2 separate regions of the Homo sapiens genome follow, and region 2 is linked to region 1. Evidence: fine-mapped expression QTL. A gene starts in region 1. The other region holds a variant in brackets. All regions are shown on one strand. Distances are from middle to middle.

Region 1 (4,383 bases):
TTTCAACACCCTCAACAGCTCAGGGATCCCTGAACATCCCCCCTAGGAACACTGGCTGGGCCATCAGCTCTGTCATAACCCAGCTAGACTCCAAGGTGACCCAGAGCAGGCAGGCTGACTGCTGGGGCTCTAACGGGACCTAGTGATGCCTCTTCCAGCTCCAGGCCAAGAGAACAACAGCTCATTCCTGAGATAAGGATCCTGCTGCCATCTGCCAGATCCTGAGGCTGCTCAAGGCAAGCCAGGGATGAGCCAGAACTCGGCTGAGAGCAGAGGCTCCACCCTGGAGAAGCACCGCTGGAAGCACCCACACAGGAAGGACTCTCTCCATGCCATAGGAGCCTGCCAGGCAGGATGGTAAGCATTCAGGGAGAGGGGCTTGGGAAGGAGCGACAGGCTGCAAGAAAAGCACCTCCACCCTGCACCAGGCTGAGAGATTCTTCAATTGTCCCAGACCAGGGAGCCTCACCCAGCTTTTCTATCTCCTTAGAAGTCTTCTCAACCTCCTCCCAAGGGTTCCAGCCTTTCCGCACCCCTCCCTCTCCTTGGGAAGTTGCTCCTAATGTCTCACCTTGATTCCTCTTGCTGTAGCACTAAGGAAGTACTACAGGGAATGTGAGAGGAGAGGCTGGAGAGAGGGAAGAAAGGCAAAGTGGAAGAGAGAGCTGGATGGGAGACTTGAGGAGAGACAGGAATGGAGGAATCACATGGGCTCTCCAAGGAAGAGGACAGTGGTGATTCTTTGCCCCCCAAAAGCACCAGAAACTGGCCATGCTTTACGGGGTGTCATCTCAATAGTGGTGCCTACTCTCTGCTTGCAAATTCTTTCTGAATCTTCAAGGTGCTTCCAGAACTCCTGATCTTCCCTCTGGAGGTAAGGGAGGGGAGAAAAGGCGGCTCCAGCTGAGGGTATTGATGCGTTAATGCAGCCAGTGCTGAGTTGTCCTCACACACCCATTGACACACCACACAGGGGGAAGTCCGGGTCCCCACAGCACAGCTGGAGCCTCCCGAGTGGACTCTGCCAGCCCTGCTCTCATCAGACAGAGAAGGGCTGCAGCTATCCTGCCGGAAATGTCATCATTCCCATGCAGGTGCACGCACCCACACACTCACATACACATTCACGCTCACACAAAGGCTGAAAATGTCACCCCGCCTTCCCAAATTCCTCCTTCATGCCCCTTCATCCCAAATCCAGACTGCAAGAGGGACTCGGAGCCCTTTCCAGTGATGTTGGCATAGAATGCCCCTTGGTGGAACTTGCCCCAACCTGGGCAGGAAGCCACAATGTCCAAACTTGAGCCCTGCCCTGTGGACCTGTCCTGGTGGGGTGAGAAGTCTCTGGAGTTGCCATCCCCACCACCCTCAGGCCTCATCCTAGAGTGGGGCACTGCCCTGTCATAGCACAGGGGGCCCAAGGCTGAGGTCTCAGGCCTGAGCTGTCACTGGCCATGATGGAAGAAACCACTCAGACTTACACCAGACTTAGTCTCTTGCCCTTTCAAGGCAAGTGACTTCCCTGCCCCTTGGCCCTGGCCTTGGGAGAGAAGGAGTAGCGTTGGGAATAGCACACAGTCTGATGAAAATTGATCCTTCCCAAGCTCCTCCTGAGCCCTCACCCAATGCCCGTGCTTACCCCTCTCCTACCCCACCTCCAGCTCCTGCAGAGCAATCAATCCCTCTCCTCCTAGTCACGGCATGAGCTTGCAGGGCACCTGCACACATGTGTGAGCCCGACAGGGGACATATAAAGATCCACTCAAAGACCTCTGCACTACAGACACACACCCTGAACATCAGGCACAGGGTCTCCTGGGGAAAGGTCCCCTGGTAATACCCACACCCGGCTGCAGCAGGGCAAGGGTGGGCAGCACCCTGCCAGGCAACTCAGGCAGCCCCAGGCTCCACTGTGAGCCCTTGCTGCCCCTTTCCTTCCCACCTAGCCTCATGCTGGCTACCCTGCCCCCTGCCCAGCCCCGTACCTGGGCTCAGGCACACGAGTAGAAGGTGGAATGCTCCTCCAACTCTCATGTCTCTAGGCTCGGTGTTTCCTCCGTCTGGGCTGGGTATCCCGTGGGGTCGTAGTGGTGGGTGTGAGGGGGTAGGTGGAGGGAGGGGGAGCTGAGGGCCCAGACACTGCCTGGGGTGGCAGGAAGGTGCAATGAGTGCCCAGCTGGGGAGCAGCTGGAGTTATTTCTATGGGAGGGAGGGGGCCTGGTCCCCGCCTTGGGGAGGAGTCCCAGGAACCCTAATTAGCAGGGTGACAGGGTGGCCTACCTGGGCATTACCCAGCCCTCACCCAAGCTCTTCCCTGTCCTAAGAGTGGCACAGGACAGCCAGCGGGACTTGTAATTAGGCACCTGTTAAACTTCACTTCCTCCTGGCCACATCCTCAGGGTGACAACAGTCACCTCATTTACAGCTTCCAAGGGCTCCCCTCACCACTCATTTGCTGCCTCCTTCCCTGGGGGAAGTGGGGAAGAGGAAGGAGAAGCCAGGCTTGGGAGAAAGAGTGGCCAGGACCTGAAGAGTTAATCCTGATCCCAGGGCATAGGGTTCCCCAGGAGTGTCCAGCCCACCTTCCCCCAGGCTTCAGGCCTTTCAAAGGGACTCAGGCCTCCTGAGCTGAAAGAGGAGAGAAGGGGTGTGTGCAGGAACAGAGTCTCCTCCTGGCTGTCCCCTCTGGAACTGTCCTCCACACCCATACTCGACTCAAGGCCATCCCCAAGTGTAGGGGACCCCTGGGAGCAGGGGTGCTATGGGGGGTCCAGGGTGTGTGCTAGGAGTAAGGTGACTGATGGGCTAGTGAGGGAGTGTTGGAGAGAACAGCGCCAAGAGGACCAGGGAAGGGGGTGCCTGTGTAAGCGTGTGCACCCCTCAGCAATGTCTGTGGGAGGGAGGCAGGATGTCTGTGTCAGGGTGTCTCTGTGAGGATGGCTAAGCCCCTCTGAGTGAACTTCTTGAGGGATCGCTTGGTGTCCTGGCTTCTCTGCCCAGAAAGAGTAGCCAGGTCTTGAGGGTTAATGCAGTCCCAGTATTAACTGGGTCCTTGAGACCAAGGACCCTCATAACCTGGACTGGTCATCGGGCTGACTAAACCAGCACAGTTCTGGGTAAGTTCGTGCTGGGGTGGGGAGGGTCCTGGTAGGCATGGGGAGCAAGTGAAGGGCCACCCCTTGTTGGCTTGTCTAAGGGGGACAGAATGGGCATGTGCCTTGTTGGACTCCATGGTGGGAGTCAGGACATGAGTGACCCCATTCAATAGCTCAACTCCCTCAAAGGAGTCAGGGACTGCCCCCATCCCTACCATGGGGCACAGAAAGGGCAGAGGAGGAAGAGTGTTAGGGAGAGTTATGGGGCTCAGGGATGCTGCCAGGGCCCACCCCTCTGGGGAAAAATAAGTCAGAACATTAAGGAAACACAAGGAGTCCACGCGTCTCTGCATTCCAAGCCGTTGCACCTGAACTCCCAACAATAACAGGGCGCTCTGAGACCTACCAGATGTACACAATGAATATCTTTATTTCCTTATTTATTTTTAGGTTTATGGGATTGTCCTGCTCCCTTTGAAGAGCAGGGATCATTATCCCCATTTTACAGATGGGGAAACAGAGACCTGGAGAAACATGGGGATTCAGCCAATGCGGCTGGTGCCTAAGCTGGGATACCCAGGTACCCAGGGTGTCAGTCCAGAGAGGTCCAAAAAATGGTCTTGGTGATCCTGTGGATTACTAGACCCACTCACGAACAAGAACCATGGAAGGTCAGGGTGAGTGGGAGGGAAAACAGGTCAGACCACGAACAGAGAGATTGAGGAGAAAGCAGTAACATTGTGGTTCCACTAAACTACAGTGCAGGCTTCAGATTTAATTGGGTTCTGGATGTGGGCTAATGTTAGAGCTGGGGTTAAGTTTGGGGTTAGTTGAATTATGAATGAGGTTGAGGTCAGATTTGAGGTTGGGATTAGAGTTAAGGTTGGGATTAGGGTTAGAAATACAGCTAGAATTGAGGCTCAGGTTTATGGCTGGGATTTGTGTTACGATAAGGAATAGAGTTTTAGTTTCATTTACAGCTCTGCCTGGGAATACAGTTAGGGCTAAATCAAAGGCTGGGTTTAGATTGATTTAGCATTGGGTTAGAACTAAGTTTGAGATTCACATTGAAATAGGCTGTGGTTAGGGTTGGAACATGGTTTAAAGACACGTAAGCAGCGGGAGTTGATGGGGATCAAAGATGAGGTTTTATTTCTAATATAGAAAGACTTCAGCCTCCATCTGCTAAATCCAGGTTTGGCTAGAATTTTCAATCCTTAGTGCGGGGAGACTACTAATGGCACATGTTGATTGGGGTCCCAAGACTTGGAGGAGGAAGCCAAATGTA
Region 2 (4,383 bases), 73 kb after region 1:
CTCTTCCTATGTCCAGTATCTCCCGCTACATTCCACTGGGCAAGCTCAACCCCTGATCACAGCTCTGATCCTATCACACCAATGCTCAACAAATTCCAGTGGCTCCAACTGCCTGTAGACTTTTTTCTTAAATATTCAACAAAGATATACTGAGTACTATTGTTGTAGAAGCCCCAGGTACACTATGATGAAAAGATGCAATACTAGGCCTCAAAAATTTATAGTCTCTGCAGACAAAAGATCCCAATTGCCTTGGAATGAGGCAATAGTAACTTGGCATCCAGTTCTTCCTTTTGATGCTAACCTGTCTTTCCAGCTTTCTCTGCACCATTCATGTCCCTGCAGGCACTCCGGCTCCCACCCAATTGGACGATCCATGATTCCATAAACGTACTATACTACTTCCTGCCTCTTGACCCTGGTTTCTGCAAGGGAATGACTGTGTCCTCTTTGAGGCCCATCACCAAAGTCCCAGAATCTGTTGCTGGTCTATCCTCAACCACCCTAAGAGGAAGGCACGAGCTCCATCCCTGGCCTTCCAGACAGTGTTGCTGTCCTCTGCCCAGATGGTGCCCACTTTAAGGATGGATGCCTCCTTGCCCCTGCCCTCAACCCACTACCCCACACAGCACCTGGTAAGAAGTGTGTGTTCCCCCGGGACACACAATTTCCCAGTCATCACACGAAAGAAACTTCAGTTCTCCTTCTTGACTCTTTGCCATCATTTTCCCCAGAGATCATCTCTCTTCTTTCCCCAAAGAAGACACAAAACCACCACTTTAAACCATGGAAATTTTTCCTCAGGGGTTTTAAGTAGTTTCCTATGCAACATGTCTTATAACACAAATTAAATTCACAAAAGATGTGTGTCCCCAGTCACTGAACTGAATTAAACCGAGCTAACTCCACCCTGCTGTCCTGAGCAGAATAACGCCAAGCTAAGACCCTCCTTCCCCTGCCCCAAGCCTGTACCTTGTCCAGCTGCAGGGCCTTTCCATCCTTGGTCCAGCTGACAAAGAGCAGTGGGGGGTTGGCACGAACCGGGCAGCGGATCACCCCCGGCATGCCTATGGGCAGGGGTGTCTCAGGAGGCATAGCTGTCACCTGGGCTGGGTCTGGGGGAAAGTAGTGGCAAGTTGGGGGAGAGGGGCTTGGCCTGGCCCAGGGGAAGGGAGCAGGCTGAGGGAGAAGCTGGGGTCAGGCTTACAGAGCACAGTGAGGTAGGCAGAGGCTGAGGGTGGATGCAGGAGGCCATTGCTGGGCACACAGGTGTAGCAGCCGGCATCATCAGGCTGGGTGGCCAGCAGCCGCAGGCTCCCGTCCACCAGGATCCGCACCCGGGGCTGCAGGCGGCTGCAATGTGGCATGTGTGAGGAGGGGTCCAGGCCTTGCCCAGCCAAGCGGCTCTTCAGAGACTGTTTGTGAATTCCCCACCTCCACCTTCCTAATGAGGGTGACCCCACCTAATGTGGAAGACATTGATGTTGTCCTGGAACCAGCTGTAGGTGAGGTTAGCAGGGTATGCCTCAGCATGGCAGGCCAATGAAACATCCTGGGAGGCATTGACTGTGCTGTTCTTGGGGGGCACCACGATGACTGGGGGTCCTGTGGGATGCACAAGGGGAGGAAGGTGGCCTCAGCCCACAGTCTTCCCAGAACCCTGAGGTCACCTCTACAACTCTTCCCAGCTCTGCTCTCTGGAATCTTAGGGCTCGTTGTTACAGGGCTTTGGGGAGTGGAAGCAGAAGCTTCCCCCTGTATGTAACAAGAATTCATCCTCTCCCTGAGACCCATTCTTCTTTCCAAATTCTCTCTGTTCCATCAAGAGCAACTCCATTCATGCAGTTCCACTGCCTAGGAATGGTGTGTGTGTTTGGGGGAGTCAGTTTAACTCTGCTCATTTACCATTTGTATCCCTGCTTGTCACCTCTTGAATTACTTCTCTGTCTCTGGCCCTAACCCAGGTGCCCAATACCTCACCTCAAGATGCTGCAGCAGCCCCTGACTCCAGGCTCCCCTGCAGCTGCCACTCTAATGGCCATTCATACAGAAACAGCCCCTTGAGCCACAGAACACTTCTGCTCAGGAACCTGCAACAGCACCTGGCTCCTACTACACTAAGCTCAAACCCAGCCCTGTGGACCCCTGCGATCCAAACCCTCCCTACGTGGCCAGCCATCTTTCCATATGTCAGCCCTCATGAACTCTTTCAGGTCAGTATGGGCAGCTGGCTGTCCCCCATCTCCATGCCTTTGCTCCCTGCACCCCCGGTCTGGAATGCCCCTCCCAAGGGCCTGGCCGCGCCACATACCTCCTGCAAAAGCACCTCTGGCTAC[T/C]ACAGTTCCACTACTCCTTCCCCTCTCTGGGCCGGTACCGCATGAGCAGTCAGTAAGAAGAGGTCATGATGCGAGCTGACACAACAGAGCACTGACTGCATGCGGGACACTGAGTGCTAAGCACTTTACCTGCACGACCTCGTTTAATCCTCACCAAAAGCTTTGTGGTGGGAATTGTCTCCATTTTCTAGATGAAGAAGTGAAGGCTCAGAGGCAGAGAGATTGTGAGGTGATTGCCCAAGGACAGCAGGAGAGGCAACATTCATATTAGGCTTCCTGATGCCACAGACGACACCTTTAACCATTACCCGGCACTGCCTTTCTTACAGTACCACGGACAGCAACACTTCCCTGTTTCCCCAATTAGTCTCACTTCCCCACAAAGATAATAGGCTCTATGAAGGCACAGTCCAGGCCTTCTGCTTCTCAGTTTCCCTTCTAAAGGAAGGATCTTGGCCAGGAATTACCATGTGCCAGTGACTGGGCTCAGCTGCACCTAAGTAAATTCTTGTAACACACCTGAGAGGTAGAGATGAGTCTCTTTATAAAGATGAAGAAACTGGGACTCAAGGAGTTAACTGGCTCACAGCCTAACACAAGCACCCATGTCCTTTCCACTATAACACACTACTGGGCACTAAGATCGCTTTGTCTGCTTACTGAGCCTTTTAAAATTAAGGTGCTGGTTTCAGAGCAACAGCCTGCATTGGGAACCCCCTTAGCTTCCACGGGCCCTGCCCTCAGGCACAAATCTCCCTCCTATCTTGCTGTGAACCAATTCAGCCACAGGTCACAGCCCCCTTGCATAGGTAACCCTGGACCCCAGCCCTCCCGCCAGAGAGCACCTAGCACTAGCAGCTGGGTGGCGTGGGTGGCGCTGCCCTCAGTGCTGGAGGCTTGGCAGGTGTAGACCCCAGAGCTGCCTCGCTCTACCCGGCGGATCCGCAGCGTCCCGTTCTGCACCTAGGGAAGGAGTGGGTGAGGAAGAGTCCTTTCCCCTGCCAGCCTCAGATCCTGCACTTCCGAGTTTGGCCAGCAGAGGGAGGCAGCACCCCAGGCTCGGGGCAAACAATGCCAAGCCCTTCTTCTGGCCCATCCTCCAGCCTGGCCTTTGCCTCCTCTGTCCTCTGGCCCCACTGCCAGGCCCCCACCTTCCCTTCACACTCTATATGGCTCACTCTGTCCACCCCCAGGACTCACTTGCACCTGGCCCTGGCCCTGGCCAAGGTCCTTTCCTCGGAGCTTCCACGTCACATGAGGCAGGGGGCTGCCACGGGCCACACAACGCAGGGTCACAGGCTCCAGTTCCTGCACTTCCAACACAGCAGGAGGTGTCTCCTGGAATTGAGGGGGTGCTGCAAGGGAGACAGGCATCAGGGGCCCCAGTGGGGCTGTCAGCCCAAAAAGCAGTGTCCAAGGGCCAGGGAGACCACTCAGGGCTCCAGCCTGCTGCCCACCCACCAGCCCTGCCTCATAGGAGTCCTCAGCCCAGGGCCACCCTGTCTACTGCACCCAGGCCAAATGAGGATTCTGTCAACCCACCCCCACACACTGGCCTGGGGCTGAACCCAGGTTGGATGTCCAGAGCCTGGGGGAGAGCCAAGCCCCCTCAGGAGGAGCACTGTTCTGGGAGTGAGGAGGCCTGGGTCCTAGACTCTGCTCTGCCACTAATCAGTGGCATGACTCAGCCTCACCTATGCAATGGGAATGATTATGACCTCCTTCCTACTTAGGAGTGAGAGATAAATAATAAGGGCTTGGGTGAAAAGGTATTTTGAAAACACAAGGTGCTATATATATGTGAGCTGTGTTTCACTCAGGGCCCAAGAGCCCCTCTCTCCCACCCACTTCCCTGGCCAGGGAAGCAGGAGGGAAGAGAAAGAGGGAGTTCCTGACACCGAGCCTAGAAGGCTGATTGAATTTATATTTGAAGAACTGAAAAGGGCAGGAGTGTGGGGGAGGGGTGAGATGCAACTACTAAGTGAGCAAACAAGGGCTCTCAGGAAGGGTGGGGCATCAGAGCTGTTTGTGGGATGGAAATAGAACT

Evidence for each region.
Region 2: its variant is fine-mapped to the expression of VSIG8 in whole blood (TOPMed, PIP above 0.99).

The regions. Positions count from the first base shown.
Region 1 is chr1:159,860,488-159,864,870 of GRCh38, forward strand. It overlaps VSIG8 (V-set and immunoglobulin domain containing 8), which reads right to left and starts at 2,170. Exons shown (of 7, transcript NM_001013661.1): 1 at 1,986-2,170. The coding sequence starts at 2,034. LOC107985216 (a long non-coding RNA gene) reads left to right here. Exons shown (of 2, transcript XR_001738263.2): 2 at 159-4,383. RefSeq lists enhancers at 671-1,585, 1,586-2,498.
Region 2 is chr1:159,933,218-159,937,600 of GRCh38, forward strand. IGSF9 (immunoglobulin superfamily member 9) reads right to left here. Exons shown (of 21, transcript NM_001135050.2): 5 at 3,537-3,691; 6 at 3,182-3,299; 7 at 1,464-1,605; 8 at 1,208-1,353; 9 at 973-1,115. Among named protein-coding and RNA genes, the nearest start is that of TAGLN2, 9.9 kb to the left of the region's middle. RefSeq lists an enhancer at 1,761-2,261. The variant T/C (reference allele first, on the strand shown) is at 2,337.